2 linked regions of the Homo sapiens genome follow. Each later gene encodes a partner of the first gene's protein in a complex. Each region holds a gene or a part of one and is shown in the gene's direction. Other genes may lie near its edges.

Region 1 (8,902 bases):
TAATAAATGATTAACATCTCTAAAGAGGCCTCCTGGGACCACATTAATAATTGATGAGACAGGTGTATCATTTTCATCTTGAAATGTTTACCTCATCTAGTATAGAAAAGTTTTCAATAATTATTTTCCCTGGCATATGTAGTGTTTACTCCGTATGTGTATTTATGTGTGTATATGTATATATGTTTATGTATGTGTACTTGTGTATGTAGCATCATCTGTATCTTCAGCCCTGATGTTTCTTTTGTCCACCAGACTCATATCCTATTGGCCTTGCCAAATCAATACACACAAAACAAAACCCATTATCTTTCTCAATCAAATTTTCTTCTCCACTTTTGTTTCCTGCCTTAAGGTGTGTGTTATATCCACCAAACTGGTCACCCAAAATAGATTCCTAAGAGATAGAAAATAGAATCCTAATGGATTCCTTATCCTCTCTCTTTTCAAGAATCAGTCAAGTCCAATATTTTCTACCTGTTTAATATCATTGATAAATCCTTCTAACTCTCCACAGTCATTGCTACTGCTTTACTTTGGCCCTCATCATATTTCTTGTGGGCTATAGCTAGAATCTCCTGATTAATCTTCCATTCTTTAGACTTGTCCTATTCATTATCTACCCCCATTCCTAGCAATAAAATAAACATCTACAACTTTTTGCCCAAGTGGGGTTTCTGTAATTTAAATAGTTTTTGAAATGTTCAGAAACATTGAGTACACCAGAACACACAGAGGGGAACAATAGACAATGGTACCTACTTGAGGGTAGAGGGTGGGAGGAGGGTGAGGTTCAAAAAGGTACCAGTTGTGTACTATGCTCACTACCTGGCTGATGAAATCATTTGTAAACCAAACCCCAGCAACATGCAATTTAATCATGTAACAAACCTGCAGATGTACTCCCAAACCTATAATAAAAGTCAAGGGAAAAAGTTCTCCAATATCGACAGAAAGAAAAATCTTCTGCTTGTACTTACTAAGCCTCTTCCTTTGCTAATTTCCTTGTAACATCTGAAACAGAGATAGATATCTTTGGAGGCATTTGGAAAACTCTTATTACTCCCTCTCTGTGAGATTTGTCCTACCTATAAGTTTGGGCTTTAGTCTATGTGTTGTCCTTTGTGTCTCTCAACTGGCACCAGCTTCAGCTAATTGAATCAGAAGTTTAAGCTTATCCAAGCTGGGCTATTTAAAGTCTTTTTGTTAGAGGGGTTGAAATCCCAAACTGGGTATTTTGCTTGAACTAGGGTGATGTCAATTAACGAGCTGAGACTGCCTTTATTGGTTGCCCATGTGTGCAGGAAAACAGAGTCTTCAAAGAGAAAGAACTAAAGCTGATGGAGGCCAAGCAGCAAGATGAGAGACCACATAACCCCAGTGAAGGAGTAGATTCCTTGTTCCAGATGTTGGCAAGTGCCTGGTCTAGTCGCAGATGCATCTGGCCCTTGAGTTTTGCAACAAGCCTCTGTATCCTTAAAATAAAATGCCATCTTTTTAAAAGTAAACTAGCTCGAGGGTTACTATTACTTGTGATATGGTTTGTATATTTGTCCCCACCCAAATCTCATGTTGAATTGTAATCCGTAATGCTGGAGGTAGGGCCCAATGGGAGGTGTTTGGATCATGAGTGGCTTGGGCCATCCCTTTGGCAATAAATGAGCATTCTCTCTGAGTTCACAGGGGAGCTGGTCATTTAAAATTGTGTGGCACACCTCATCCTCCCCCACCAACACATTCTGTCTCTCTTGCTCCTGCTTTTACCATGTGAAGTGCTTTCTCCCACTTTGCCTTCTGCCATGATTGTAAGCTTCCTGAGGCCTCCCCAGAAGCCAATGCAGAAGGTATGCTTCCTGTACAGCCTGTAGAACTGTGAGCTAATTAAACCTCTTTTCTTTATAAATTACCCAGTCTCAGGTATTTCTTTATAGTAGTGCAAGAACGGCCTAATATAACTTGCAATCAAGAGTTTTAACTAAGACACTTATTCATCTTCCAAGACTAAGCCAAGGTTACTCTTTTCTAAAGATTTTACAAATCCCAATACCACCTTCTCCCTGACTCTCACGTGTGCTTCCCTCTACCTGTAACATTTCATTACTCTTACACACCTGCTACTCCCATACTAATCTGTAAACTGCTTAAGAACAAAGGGAATGTCTTATGTATTTTTACATCTCTCCAGTGATGAAGGGTACATAAAAGTTTAACACATTTCCCTCATCGGATATTGTAATTTGATAGCATAGAAACTGAATTTAACCTGAATAAATATTTTGTTTGGCCTATACAGAGAACTTCAGTCTCTCTCTCTCTCTCTCCTCTGTCTCTGTCTCTGTCTGTCTCTCTCTCTCTGTGTGTGCCTGCACACATGTGTAAAATCTAGTATTTTCATTTACTTCTCTAAAGATAAAGATCTTAAGACCATTCCTTAGTATTATCCAGTATAGTATATTGATTTCCTCTCTACTTGATTGAAACAGCAGAGTTGGGCATTTATTTGGCTGATGTGTCCATAAGTTTTGTGGAAAAGTCAAGTCCAACATTGACTAAAGCACTCTGGTAGAAACAAAGGGAGATAAAATTATAAAGTAATATCTTTCCCCACAACTGCACCAAAAATGCACTTTCCAAAGTCACCAATGATCTCCTTTTTGTTAAATCCGAAGGGCATTTGACCCTTTTCTACAATTTGACATTGTTAACTAATTTCTTCTTCAATTTCCTTTCTTGCTTTTAGGGATTTGACTCCTAATTTTTTTCTTACCCTTAATCTAGCCCTTATCTCTTTTATGTGTTTCTCTTGCTCAGCCTTGCTCACTTGGTGTCTTTGATATTCTTCTCTTTTATTTTACTGTCTCCGAGGCTCATCTCACTTCTTGGCCTTTAATTATTTATTTATGTAGGATGTGAACTCCTAAATCAGCATTCAAGATGTATATTTGGATACTCATTTCAATGTCTCAGTCTCAAACTCAATATATTAAAAGTTGTATCCTTTATGTCCACCACCAGCCCCAAAGAATGCACAACTGAACAAAACCCTGACCATCATCCTATATTTTCTCTCTTTCTGAGCTATCCATAGAGGTGATCAAGATAGAAATGTGTGCCATCTTCTATTCATTCCACTGTCATCAACTACATGTACTCATCAAACCATGCCAGTTCTACCTCCTTAATAACTGTAGCTTAACACCTGAATAACTGAACAAAAACTTACAATTTAACTCTCTTAACACTTATCTACCTCAATTTTATTTTTATAATTTATACATAATCTATAATTATTTTTATATAATTGGCACAGTGATAATTCCAGATAAAACTCACTGAATTTCTATTTCCATCCTTGCCAATGATACACACACACAATGTAATGCTGAGAGGGTTGGGAAGGAAGAATGGGAGAAAGGCAGAAGTTGACAGTTAAAAAAAAAAAGTTTCCAGATGGTTTTCTTAGTGTCATCTCTGCAACCTCATCAAATAAGGGTCCAAAATTTATGTTACAACATTTGTTTGATGCCTTATTTAAATTGCTTTACTGGACATTTTCCATCTGTTAAGCTCTCTGAAAGAAACAAAATTGCCTTGTCATAGCTAGACCTCATGATCCTATACACTTACAACGGGCAGACTTTGCAGGGGCCCACACCTTTCAAGGTGGTTTGGGAAAATGACACAGAAAAGTTTTACATCAGCTGAAAAGAAAAATGCATAACTCATTTTGGTAATTTCAGTTTTAATTCTTAATAGGATAAAGGAAACATGCACATTATAAATCAATGCTCTGTGTTAACAAATAATCAAGTAAGCAGAGTTGCAAGTATTGGCTAAAATGAATTTTGGATATTTTTAGCTACCAAATTTCTCGAGGCAAGGCAGACATACATCTGGACCTGAATATCTGCATTATTAGGGAATTTTTGTTTGTTTGTTTTATATTGTTTTGTTATTTTTAAAAGTAGGTGCCAAATTAGGTCACCTGCTGTCTGGGCAATGTTATTTTTTGCCATAACCACAAATTGAAGAAAATTGACTGCTCTTTTTCCTTAGTCAACATGCTGTGCTTCCAGCCCCAAACATCTTTGAGAAGTTGTTTAGATTCATGAGCAATGCCTCTGTCCCCAACAGGCTAAGACATTAGGCAGGTCCCTGCACCTCTGGAGTCCTCAGTTCCCTGCAAAGTGAGGAAGCTAGACTAAGTAATCGTTAGGCTCCCTTCCAGACCGACCAATCTGATGGTATTAGATGCAATTGCTCCTGAATTAGGGCATGAAATGAATTCAGCTTTGGTGCACCAATGTGATGACTCTGCTTCATCAAAGCCTGAGCACGCGATAGGCCTAGCACCATCTCACACAGAGACAAAGGGCAACCCTCTGCTTCCAAAGGAATGACACAACCTGTTTCTGAAGTGATTCACATCATCTTTACTTTTGAACAACCCAATGCTCAGAAAACAATCTAAGAATCTTCGCTGACTTTAGGGATGTAAGATACGGTTTCTTGACAGTATTTGGGATTGTGGAAAAAAGCAATTGAGGAAAGGGCATCTCCACAACGCAATATTGAATTTAGTGCCCAAGGTCCATCACAGGAATCCCTAACGATCCCTACAATCTCTCTCTCTCTCTTTTTTTTCTCTCTTTACCCTGAAAATAAACTGAGAAGTTAGTATTGGGATAACTATTCCCCTTGACCCAAATAAAAAGTCCTGGGCAAACACAGGTACAAATTGCCAAATGGAAAAAGTTCTTCTCCATCTTCAGCTAGAGGGAGGCTGGGGATCCCAGCTCTTTAGAAGCCGGCCCGTGGACGCCCAGAGAATCCCTTCGGAGACCAGGTCAGGGTCACTGAGCTTGCCCAGCAGGGCGCCGCCTCGGACGCCGCCCCGCCTCTCACCTTGCCAGCGCCGCGCTCGGGCCGCGAAGGTGCGTGCGGCGCTCGGTGATTGGCGGCGGCCCGGAGCTGCCCGGCTGCCATTGGCTGCCCGGCCCCCTTTGTTCCCGGGTCCGGGCCGCAGGCCCGCTGCGGCGGACTGGGCGGCGGAAGTTCGACGGCGCCGGGCGAGTGGCTGTTGAGCGGCGCCGCGGGAGTTCCGCAGGTTTCCCGTGTTCGCAGCGGAGCCGGAGGCCAGCTGAACCCGGCCGTGGGATCCCGGATAGGAGGAGGAGGGGACCCATAGGACGCGTTAACATGGACCTGGAAAACAAAGTGAAGAAGGTAGGGGGGCGCTCGTGGCGGGCGGCGGCTGCTTCACCTGCGCGGGTCGCGCGGCGCGCGGCGGCCGGAGGTGCCGAGGTGGGTGGGGCTCGCGGGCCCCCCGGTGTGAGCCCGGCTCTGGGTCTGCGGTGCCCCGGGCCCAGGGACCTGGCCCCCTGGGTAGAGGAGGTGCTCGGCGGCCCCGCCAGCTCCCCACACTCGGGAGCGACAGAATTGGAAGCGCGAGCGAGGGCGGGCGCGGGACTCTTCTCTCCAGTCTCACGGAATCCCAGTGGTTGTAGGTGTTGGAAACTTTACTTAAGATGTTTCAGCTCTGCCTGTGCCTCCTCAAAAGGAAAGGACGAGCTTAGGGCGAGTGCGGGCGAGACCGTGACACTTCCTGGCTCAGGAAGTTGAATTTCATTAAGCCTTTGTGGTTTGGGGCTCTGCTGTGCTTTGACAGCTCTGATCTCCTCCCTTCCGGCTGGGCTGTCTGGGGCGCTCTAAAATGAGTGTTGATTTAATGCACTGCCTTCGCACCCGTGCTGGTGATAACTTCTAATGTGATTTTTTTTTCGGTCATTCATTACTTGTCTACCGACCGAGGCAGTGCCTCCCTCTTAGGGAATTATCTGTCAAAGAGCGCATTCTCCTTGTTTGGCAGGTAGTCCCAAAGGGCGGTTGTCACCAGCGTCTCAGCGCAGGGAGACATTTTCAGCTTGGCTGCTGCCTCGCAGGCACTGGAACCGACGGCCCTACCTGAGCCACTCCCGGGTTATGCGGAGCCTGGTGTCGCCTGGGAGAAAAGGGTGGGGACCAGACTATGACTCAGAAGGAATGCTGATGTCACATTCGAGTGAATTGCCCTGTGCGAAAGTTCTCCTCGTTCCAGGGGATTTGCTCATGTTTTACTTTGTGGTAAATTTAAGCTAGCTGTCCCTTATCAAATAGAGAAGTTTTGCAGAGAGAGGAAGGGAAAAATACAGAAAACAGTTTTTGTTTTTCTCATACTCATGGTTCCTAATATTTTATCTTCTAAACACAAAGTTTTTGACTTGAGCATTAATTCTATTTTATGCCCAGAACTGGATTTTTGAAAATGGATACAAAATATTGTGTTAGGACTGCAGAGTTTTCGGTTAGGAAGCTATTGACCAATAAAAACTCGAAATGAGAAAACAGTTTTTTTCATTCCTTGCGACTAAAATTCTCAGGCACTCAAAAAGGTATCCAAGAACAGAAAAACATAAATTGTTAATGGTAGCGTGATTGCATTCTATTCTCTTCCCATTTGGTTTCTTTCTTTTTTTCTTTTAAATAACTGTAATATTTTTGGTTAATCTTGCTTGTCATGGGGGAAAAGCGGGGAAAGCATTTTGCCCGCTTAGCTTTCTGTTGATGAATACTACTCTCATTTAGTTTTCAAGTAGGTAAGAGCTACTTAATTTAGTACTTGTCTAAAACTTGGGGGGTCTTGTCCTTGCTTTTAAGTATTTATTTGAAGACAACTTTGCAAAAGTAAACATATTTTGGGCTGCCGAGGATGAACAGGTGAAGCACAGGATTTTTAGGGTAATGACACTATTCTGTATGATACTATAAAATGGCTGATACATGTAATTATACATTAATCAAAATCCATAGAATGTAGAACACCAAGAGTAAACCCTAATGTAAACTATGTATGTTGGGGATAATGATGTGTCAATGTGTTTCATCACTTGTAACAAATGTACTGCACTGATACGGGTTGTTGGTAGTCCGGGAGGCTGCTGGAGACAGGAAGGCATGGGGGAGGTACATGGGAACTTCGAATTTTCTGCTCAATTTTGCTGTGAAGCTAAAAAATGCTTTAAAAATAAAGTCTGTTTAATAGGGGGAGAAAAATCAAAGACATTTTTGAAACTTTTTGAGACAAGGAGTAATTCTGAGGGAAGAAGTTCAAACTTAAAAATTGTATATGCTTGCAAAGGAAAAATCCAGACGTTGTTTATAAACAATTTCCTTAGAGTTTGAAAATGTGGATTATGATAAATAATGCCCTTGACATATGGTGTAATTTTCCTCGTTTATCCCCCACTTTACTTTTAAAAGTTATATTTTCAACCAAGAATCTTAACTTTCTCTAATCCTCCTCTTCTCCGCCTCTACCACCCCAGAAAGAATTCCATAAATTAAAGGTTTTAGAGAGAATCCCATGATATAACAAATCCCTGTTTCACTACGTTGTCTTCACTGATGATTCTTAGAATCCTCAACTGGTAAATTGGAAGCTATTAAAAAACCGCAGAGATGTCCCGTATGACTCCAATTTGTGAGTCCCTTAATAGGCTTGATAGTCTAACAAAAAGTTTCCCAGTACAAAATTTGGAAATCTCAGGAATGTATTTCACAATCTTAGCCATACTCTCAAAAAGAAATTTATGTTCCTTTTAGCAATTGTTTTCTAACACGTCCAAAGAAGGAAATATTACAAGACTATCTGATTTACCAGCAGAGTCCTCACCCTATTTTGGTACCTAGTTTTCAAGTCTCCTTTCTTTTTGACTCAGTTATTCAAGAAAATTTATAGTTTGAATGTACCTTGAGAAAAGGAAGATTAAAAGTTGGAACAAAGATACAACCATTTAAATACAACTAATATGACTTCTGTTTTAAGATGTATGACATTTTTTCCTTCTAAAACTTTTACATTGTTGATTTCATGAGGAATTTCTTCCAGACAGATGAAAAGCATCATTGTTCCACATTAACATTTCATGTAAAAAGAATTAAGGAGGACTGTCTTTATTAAACAGTGATTGAGATAGATGATACTATTATAAAATTCTTGGTTTGTAAAAGGAAAGCTCGTCCACATCAGTTGTACAAATTGGGATTAATTACCAGTTAAAACCCACCATCACAAAGACAAGGGGTTTTTATAATTAGATTTTGCTATATTTTGTTTTGTTTGAAGAAAGCGAGCTGTTGCTAGGATGTGGGAGCTAGTTTGGTTATACAAAGTTTTTGTTTTAATAATACTTTAGAACAGAATTGATTCTATGTCCTTGCCCTGTCTTCTGAGTTACACATCTAGACCTCTTTCTTATTTTTTAAGTCTCATCTTAATTGGCTTTGTGTCAGTATGGTCCATGTCTGCTTGGGAAAAACAGTGGACTTTGAGAAGCAGAAACAGTCTCATTTTGCGGTGAATGGTAAATCATGGCCAACAGCCAGCTGTTTTCCTCTTTCCTTTCTGTGTTACTCTCCCATGAGAAATATTTTTTTTCAATTAAGAACATACCAACAGAGAAAGAGAACTACAATAATTTCCCTTTTACTGCCTGGAATTGCTGCAGGGCTTTTTCATTTTACCGTGTTCATTTTTTCTCTCCTCTAACCCCTTTATTTTGATTAATCCTAATATTTTGCATACTTTTCTTAAGACTCTTATTTCTTTAATTTTACTTTTTAAAAATATGATGCATTTTAAAGATTACATGTTACTAAAAATCCCCTTTCTCTGTATCCAAACTTGTTTTCAAAACCTTTGTCATTAGCCAAAAAAGCATAGTGAAACCAAATGAATACTATTGGAAAAAGGACTAAACTACAAAGATTATTTCCATTGGAAATTAGAATGAGTTATTTGCCTTAGGTAGCCCCTGGTTGAAGTGGAAAAGGCAATATATGGTGACCTGGATGCTCAAATCTA
Region 2 (7,929 bases), on another chromosome or scaffold:
GGCCAAGATGGTGAAACCCCATCTCTACTAAAAATACAAAAATTAGCTGGGCATGGTGGCGGGTGCCTGTAATCCCAGCTACTTGGGGGGCTGAGGCAGAGAATTGCTTCAACCTGGGAGGCAAAGGTTGCAGTGAGCTGAGATCGCACCACTGCACTCCAGCCTGGGAGACAGAGTGAGACTCCATCTCAAAAAAAAAGAAAAGAAAAATAAAAATGTTAGAAAGATCTGCATTGGGCTGTAATGTAGAGAATGGATGGGAGGGGCAAGACTAGAAACTGAGACCCGAAACGAGGCCATTGGAGAACTTCTGATAAGACTTGAAGGTGGCCTGACCTAGGGCTGTGAGAGTGTGGAAACAAGGAAGAGCCTAGTTCTAGAGAAACTTAGAAAGTAGAATAGAATCCAATCTGTTTTTTCCCCAACCATCCCTCACTTTAATCCAAGCTCTTACTCTGACATTTCAGGGCTTCCCTCATGGGCTCCTGTGATGTGGGATGTGAGGCAGAGGGAAGGATGAATCGCTTACTTGTACCCGGGCAAAGAAAGATGGCCTGTCATCCAGAAAGGACAAATTCACGAGAGTGCCAGAGGGACCTGCAACTTAAGCTGCCCCCTCCCACTCCAAAAATCAAAAAGGCAGTTTAGGGCTTTGGTGGTGAAGAGTCAACAGAAAAAGGGGAAGAGCGGCAACTGGGCCTGAGGAAGTTTTCTGGGAGAATTAAGATGAGCAGAGGTGCCTGAGGAATTGATTAGGCAACATGCATGGGGGAAAAAGAGTTAAGAAATACTGCCATGGAGCATGTAAGAATGCTAATGAGGAATGTGTGGGGATTTTTGTTTGCCAAATTTTTGTTTGTTTGTTTGTTTCTGAGACAGAGTTTCGCTCTTTCGCCCAGTCTGGAGTGCAGTGGCGCGATCTCAGCTCACTGCAACCTCCGCCTTCCAGTTTCAAGCGATTCTCCTGCCTCAGCCTCCCCAGTAGCTGGGATTACAGGCACCTGCTACCACGCCTGGCTAATTTTTGTATTTTTGGTAGAGACGGGGTTTCACCATGTTGGCCAGGCTGACATTGAACTCCTGATCTCGTGATCCGCCCGCCTTGGCCTCCCAAAGTGCTGGGATTACAGGTGTGAGCCACCATGCCCAGCCCGCTGAATTGTTTCTTGGAACATGGCAGCATTCAACTATATTATTTGGGTAACAACTTTCTAAGGGTTATAATTATGAACATCATGACCCAGAAATGCCCTGTGGTGGGATCATGAAATCACAGAAGCTGAGGATTGGACCCTTCAGTTCCTTCTAGAACATTCCATCCAGTAGTCTGACATGGACAGCTCACCCTATTTTGGCCAGCCATGAGTGATAAACGTTTCGTCACACTGGATTGGCATGTGTACCTCTCTGAAGCCATTAAATGGTCTTGGGTCTACTCTTGAAGTTCTACGGGGCAAGCAAATTCTTCCACGACAACTCTTAGGCTATTTAAAGGCAGTATTCATGGACTGCCAGAGCCTACTTTTTATCCATTCCTTACAGAAAGGCAGTACAGAGCAGATGGAAGACTGAGGAACTGGATTCCGAAGACCTGGGTTCAAACATAGACTTATTATTTATAATCTGTATGACTTTGGGTAAACTACTTGAAATGTTGTTTGAATGTGATTACCATTTTGCTATGTCCCCTCGTCAACTTGACCCCTACCCACAGCCTCCAGGTCTCTGCCTTGAGCTGCTAAGTGGATGATGGTGACACACACACATACACACACACACACACACACACACACACACACTCACATTTGGGGTCTGCTGACTTAGAGATGCCCAAAGGTCACTAGGCTGTGGGACACTGGGCTGGAGCACATGGAAAGGGAAGCATCCGGATCCACATTTGCATGCTCAGTAGCACATCTGCCCCTGAAGACAGCTCCTCTCCCTTCCACCTCGGGGAAATGGACACAGTCTTGGGACCTGGGTGTCCACACTGGGATCTGAGCTGTGAGAAAGCAGCTCAAAGTGCCTGTTTGGCAAGGATCTTCTTTGTTGGGAGCTCCTGACTCAGGGGTTCTCCAGCATATTCAAGAGTTGGAAAGGCTGTGGTGGGCTCCAGTAATTTTTAAGAAAAACTCCAGGTGATTCATGAGAAGAAATGCCATGCTGGATTTTCTTTTTTTCCCTCCCATTGCTGCTAAAATTCCAGAGGCCTGGCTCACCTCTCCTCCAAAGGTCAAGGGTGGGCAGTGTCCCAAAACTGAAGCCAGGAGCCAGGATGCACCTCAGGCAGAAGTGTGTTCTTTAATCTCACCTTTCCATGTTCTCTCCCTCCACTATAGAAGAGGATCCCAGGGTTGCATTTGAAAAGGGGTCATCCCATGGTTTTTTTGGTCTTGAGCCAGAGGGCTAAAAGTAGGTGTGATCCCATTAGAAAATGTGGCCCAATATATTTTGAGCACTATAGGGTGCCTCTCCCAAGAGGGACCTCACTAGGGACCCCAGAGGGCCCACACAGACCTTAGCTGGTGACAATTATGGGGGGTGTGTGTGCTAGGCAGTGGAGGTTTGGGGCACGGTGTCCACAGTCTCTGCATTCTTCCATCATTACCACTAACCGTGTGATGACCCATAGAGGGAGAGAAGAGGCACAGAGGGTAACAGGAAGCTTAGGGGAAACAGGGTTTTTATTAGGAGCACCCAACATGTGAAACTCAGTGGTGAAGTAAAAGGAGGGCAAGTGTTTCATTGGCTTTTGCTCAGAGAATGTGAGGGGAATCCCTATGCTCAAGGACCTTACAGACTAGATAGAGTGACTGCCTTACACTAAAGCATCACCTCTTCCACACACAAATGCAGAAAGTGTGATGACAGATGACAGATGGGCAAGCCTGGGCAGCCCACGAAGAGCAAATGAGTCAGAGCATGTCAGGCTTGGAGTGTATTAGCAAAGAGGGAGGCACTGAACAGGTGAAAGGGTCCTCCAAAGGTGTCCACATCTTAATCCCTGGGACCTGTGACTATATTAACTTTCATGCCAAAAGGGATTCTGTGGATGTGATTAAATGAAGGAATCTGAGATGGGGAGAGTATCCTGTATGGCCTGGGTGGGGCCAATGTAATCACAAGGGTCCTTATATGGGGGATACAGGAGGGTCAAGGGCAGAGAAGCAGATGTGACAATGACAGCTCTAGTCTGAGAGTCTTCCAAGATGGAGGAAGGGACTATGAGCCAAGGAACACAGGTGGCCTCTAGGAGCTGGAGGCAAGAGGAAGTATTGTCTCCTACACCTCCAGAAGGAATACAGCCCTGAAAGAACCTTAATTGTAGCCCACTAAGAAGAATTACGAACTTCTGACCTCCAAAATAGTAAGATAATAACTGTGAATTGCTTTAAGCCACTAAATCCATGGTAATTTGTTACAGCAGAAACAGGAAGCTAATACAGGCTCTTCTAGGAGTCCAGGTTAGTGAAAAGGCACCAAGCAGCTATAGATTTCGCAACATTCAAGTAGGGTTTGGGAAGAAAAAAATGGAGGGTTTTAAATTACATATGCCTTTGGTTACCATATACAGCACTTTTGAAATAAAGTCAAACAATCTGAGTTGCCCACGCAAATCCCTGAACGGCAGAGGCAATTAAACTGTTTTTCAGGCAGCCAGGCATCAAAAGTACTTTCCTATTTTTCCTTTAAAATTCCATGCTATTATCTCACCCACTAACCAATGAAGCAAGAAACTGAGATTTTGTCCTTGGGATGACACCTTGCTGCCCCCATCAGATAGTCACCACAAACCTCATGAGACTGGACTTGGTCCTTTTCTTCTCTCATACCCAACAAGGAACTGAGAGCAACTCCCGTAGCCTCTCTAAAGGAGAAAGCCCATTATTGTGGTGACTGCCTCTTTTATGAAGGGCTGGGATCAGGTTCAGGGTGTGGCATAACATAAGGTTGGATTCTGCCCTGAGTGTGGCAGGCATCCACACCAATGTGTCCAGCTTCAGAAATGGCATGCAAGATGGTGGCCAAACAGCCTAAGAGTTGCACGCTAGGTCCCATCAAGCTGTGTCCCAGCACATCCTGGGGAGGAAGCCACAGTCAGGAGAGCTTGGCTACTCCTGGTTGGATATCCTTGGGTGAGCTATGCACCTAAAAGCCTCAGTGTTGTCAGTGGGATTTTGTAGAGTCTAATTTCACTGTCTAGCCAATGACCCTGATGAAGGCACAGTAAGTGTACACATGTATATCCAAAAATAATTCCCCTTAAGGTTGTTCTAAGGGTCACCCTTAGTGCCCTTAGTCACCATAGCAGCAAAGGATTCCCACTAACATCTAAATCAGATGGTGTCAGTGCTCTGTGCCAAATCCTCTAGTGCTTTCTGACCTTACCCACGATCCTTGCATTGGCCTATGAGGCCTACCATGAGCTGCTTGCCTTCCCCCACCCCATCTCATCTACTTTTCCTTACTCCTTCTATGCCAGCCACACTTTTCTTCCTGCTCCTCCTTTAACTCGAGAGGTCGGCAAACTTTTTAAGGGTCAGTCAGTATTTACTTTCTTTCAGCTTTTTGGGCAATGCAGTCTTCAATGCTGTGACTCAGCTCTACTGTTGTACTGCAATGGCAGTCACGGACAATACGTACATGAATGAGCACGGCTGTATTCCTATCCAACAAGCCGGGGACCGGATTGGACTGCAGCCTGCTGACCCCTGATCTAACTCTTCAGTCACACATCTGCCTCCAGTCCTCTGCACCTGCTGCTCCCCTGACATACACATGGCTCTCTCCCTCACCTCCTGCAGGTCTTCATTCAAATGTCACCCTCTCAGGAAGCCCTGCCCAGGCCACACTAGCACTGCCACCCTGCTTTTGCTCTTAACGCTCATTTTGGTTATTGTCTGTCACCCCCACCCGCCACCGACTAGAATAAGGGATTTTGTCTGTTTTTTTCACCAGCGAATTCCCAGCTGCCTTGTATATAGCAGACATTCAAGAAATATTAATTAATTGAATAAATCAGTCTTGTTACGAAATTTAGGAAAAGGGGAGCCATTTCAAAAACAATATCCCAAATGTACCCTAACACAGGATAAGGGTTTGCAATATCTAGAAAGCCCAGGTCACCAGATTACATCATAATTAGTGATGTCACTGTTGGGAAAATTCTCAGGGTATCCTCTGATGTAGGCCTTTCAGGCCTTGAATCCAGTGGGATTGAGAACTTTCTAAGAGTGGTGCGGCTCTTGACAACATGTGGGCTCCACCAGCAGCAATCATGGGGGATGGGCCCACCAAGAAGGTGGGCAACCAGGCCCCCCTGCAGACACAGGCCCTCCAGACTGCCTCTTTAAGGGATGGCCCGGCGAAGCGGGCCGTGTGGGTCCGCCATACGAGTTCAGAGCCACAAGAACCTACTGAATCAAAGGCAGCCAAGGAGAGGCCCAAGCAGGAGGTGACCAAAGCAGTGGTCGTGGACCTGGGCACTGGCTACTGTAAATGTGGCTTTGCCGGCCTGCCAAGACCCACCCACAAGATCTCAACAACGGTGGGCAAGCCCTACATGGAGACCGCCAAGACTGGGGATAATCGCAAGGAGACATTCGTGGGGCAGGAACTCAACAACACAAACGTTCATCTCAAGCTGGTTAACCCTCTGCGACATGGCATCATCGTGGACTGGGATACAGTGCAGGATATCTGGGAATATCTCTTCCGACAAGAGATGAAGATCGCCCCGGAGGAGCATGCGGTCTTGGTTTCAGACCCGCCACTGAGCCCACACACCAACAGAGAGAAATATGCTGAAATGCTGTTTGAAGCCTTCAACACCCCTGCAATGCACATCGCCTACCAGTCGCGCCTGTCCATGTACTCCTATGGAAGGACCTCCGGCCTGGTGGTGGAGGTGGGCCATGGCGTGTCCTACGTGGTCCCCATCTACGAGGGTTATCCTTTGCCCAGCATCACCGGAAGGCTGGACTACGCGGGCTCTGACCTGACAGCCTACCTGCTGGGCCTGCTGAACAGTGCGGGGAACGAATTCACCCAGGACCAGATGGGCATCGTGGAGGACATCAAGAAGAAATGCTGCTTTGTGGCCCTGGATCCCATTGAGGAGAAGAAAGTCCCTCTCAGTGAGCATACGATCCGCTACGTGCTGCCGGATGGGAAGGAGATTCAGCTGTGCCAGGAACGGTTCCTCTGCTCGGAGATGTTCTTCAAGCCATCTCTCATCAAGTCCATGCAGCTGGGCCTCCACACCCAAACCGTGTCCTGCCTTAACAAGTGTGACATCGCCCTCAAACGGGACCTCATGGGGAACATCCTGCTCTGCGGGGGCAGCACGATGCTCAGTGGCTTCCCTAACCGTCTGCAGAAGGAGCTAAGCAGCATGTGTCCCAATGACACCCCGCAGGTAAACGTGCTGCCTGAAAGAGACAGTGCCGTGTGGACCGGTGGCTCCATCCTGGCCTCACTTCAGGGTTTCCAACCATTGTGGGTCCACCGCTTTGAGTACGAGGAACACGGGCCTTTCTTCCTCTACAGAAGGTGCTTCTGAACAGCGACGAGGATGGACACTGCACTGGCAGTGCCTACCCTCGACAGGGTGAGCGCACTCCTACACACAGGGGGTGGAGCCGGCGCTTATTCCTGTAGCATTAAACACCCCTCATATGCCCCTCCACAGTGTGTTTCTCTACTTCCTGACTTCATAAGAAACAACTTCACACGTGCAGCGTCTGCCTTAAAATATACATTTCCCAAAACAAAAGCAGGAGTAGGGGGAGGATGAACAAAAAAGGGCATGCATTGTATGTGGATTGCTTAAACATTCACTTGTTCTAAAATTATGCTGCCCCTTATTTTGTGCATTCCCCGCTTTAGGAACTACTTTACGGTTAAACTCTGCTTGGAAGGGGGAGTGCAATGAAGATTAGAGGGTAAATGCTGTTGGGGCATATAAGCAGTTCCCTTTCCATAAATGCCAATAGGAAGTATGCTGTAACAGTGCAAACTCCCACAAAGCATCAGTGTCCATTTCATACTTCATCAACAACCCTGAGGGACTGGAAAGAGCTGGCAAAGCTGTCTGAGCCCTGCTTTAACAGGAGTTTCTTTTAGTTCCAACAGTCATTTATGTCTCAGTACCAGTTCTTACTAAGCCATCACAGCGACTGGCTGCTGAAGCCTAGCATATTACAAGCAAGGCATTTGTATGTGCCTTAAAGGGCAACTCTTCAGAGAACAAGTGCTATACAGATTTCCCATTTTAAAAACTGAAGTAAGACTGATCTTGGGTTATCAGCAGAGAGGTTAGGGATTGAGGCCACAGTCATTCTCTAGACACTTCAAGTAGTAGCTGACCATCTCCCAGCAGACTGGATTCTCCATCAGCCTAGAACACACACGGTTGGAGTCTGGGGTGTGCTGAGGATAGAGGCTGCTGGTTCTGGGGCTGATGATATGGGTCTGTGGGAGGCTGCCCTATGTGGGTCATTCTAACCCCACTGGGGAGCCCAAAGATACACAGAGACCCTCAGTAGCCAGGGAAGCCCTTCCAGGGCCCAGCGAGCTCTCTGGTGTTCCTGCAGGGGGAGTTTGTAATATGAGCACTTTAAATTGGAGATTCTTTAGAACAGCCTCCAATACATTCTCTGTCTTGTCTTTAAAGTTCAAAATCTGAACACTAGTTGGTGCACAAAACAGAGGATAGAACATGGGCTCTGGACTCTGTGGTTTGAAACGCAATTTTGCTACCACCTAACTGTGACTTGAGTTTGTTTGCTTGCCTGCAAAACTGAGTATAAATGCCTACCTCACACAGCTGATTAAAAAACAGCGAAAAATATCTGAATACCAGTATCTAGACTCCTGGGGGTCCTCACAATAGCTAGCTAGTATCTTTAGGTTTCTACCTCTTATGCA

The links.
Region 2: the proteins of TES (region 1) and ACTL7A are in contact, whole or in part, in a crystal structure (PDB 2XQN), measured with the Homo sapiens proteins. Residues at the interface, in NP_056456.1 of Homo sapiens: Asn311, Glu312, Tyr313, Thr314, Gln315, Ala316, Glu317, Leu323, Phe326, Leu335, Ala336, Gly337, Glu338, Ile339, Tyr340, Val341, Tyr353, Pro370, Glu371, Val372, Gln373, Arg374, Val375, Thr376, Tyr377, Ala384, Phe389, Leu398, Ile399, Gly400; in NP_006678.1 of Homo sapiens: Leu28 (codon at 5,336), Gln29 (codon at 5,339), Thr30 (codon at 5,342), Ala31 (codon at 5,345), Ser32 (codon at 5,348), Leu33 (codon at 5,351), Arg34 (codon at 5,354), Asp35 (codon at 5,357), Gly36 (codon at 5,360), Pro37 (codon at 5,363), Ala38 (codon at 5,366), Lys39 (codon at 5,369), Arg40 (codon at 5,372), Ala41 (codon at 5,375), Val42 (codon at 5,378), Trp43 (codon at 5,381), Val44 (codon at 5,384), Arg45 (codon at 5,387), His46 (codon at 5,390).

The regions. Positions count from the first base shown.
Region 1 is NC_000007.14:116,205,509-116,214,410, forward strand, and holds the start of TES (testin), read left to right. Parts: upstream 1-5,030; 5' UTR 5,031-5,199; coding exon 5,200-5,226; intron 5,227-8,902. UniProt on the Homo sapiens protein: Scaffold protein that may play a role in cell adhesion, cell spreading and in the reorganization of the actin cytoskeleton. Plays a role in the regulation of cell proliferation. May act as a tumor suppressor. Inhibits tumor cell growth.
Region 2 is NC_000009.12:108,857,069-108,864,997, forward strand, and holds ACTL7A (actin-like protein 7A), read left to right. Parts: upstream 1-5,197; 5' UTR 5,198-5,254; coding exon 5,255-6,562; 3' UTR 6,563-6,688; downstream 6,689-7,929. UniProt on the Homo sapiens protein: Essential for normal spermatogenesis and male fertility. Required for normal sperm head morphology, acroplaxome formation, acrosome attachment, and acrosome granule stability.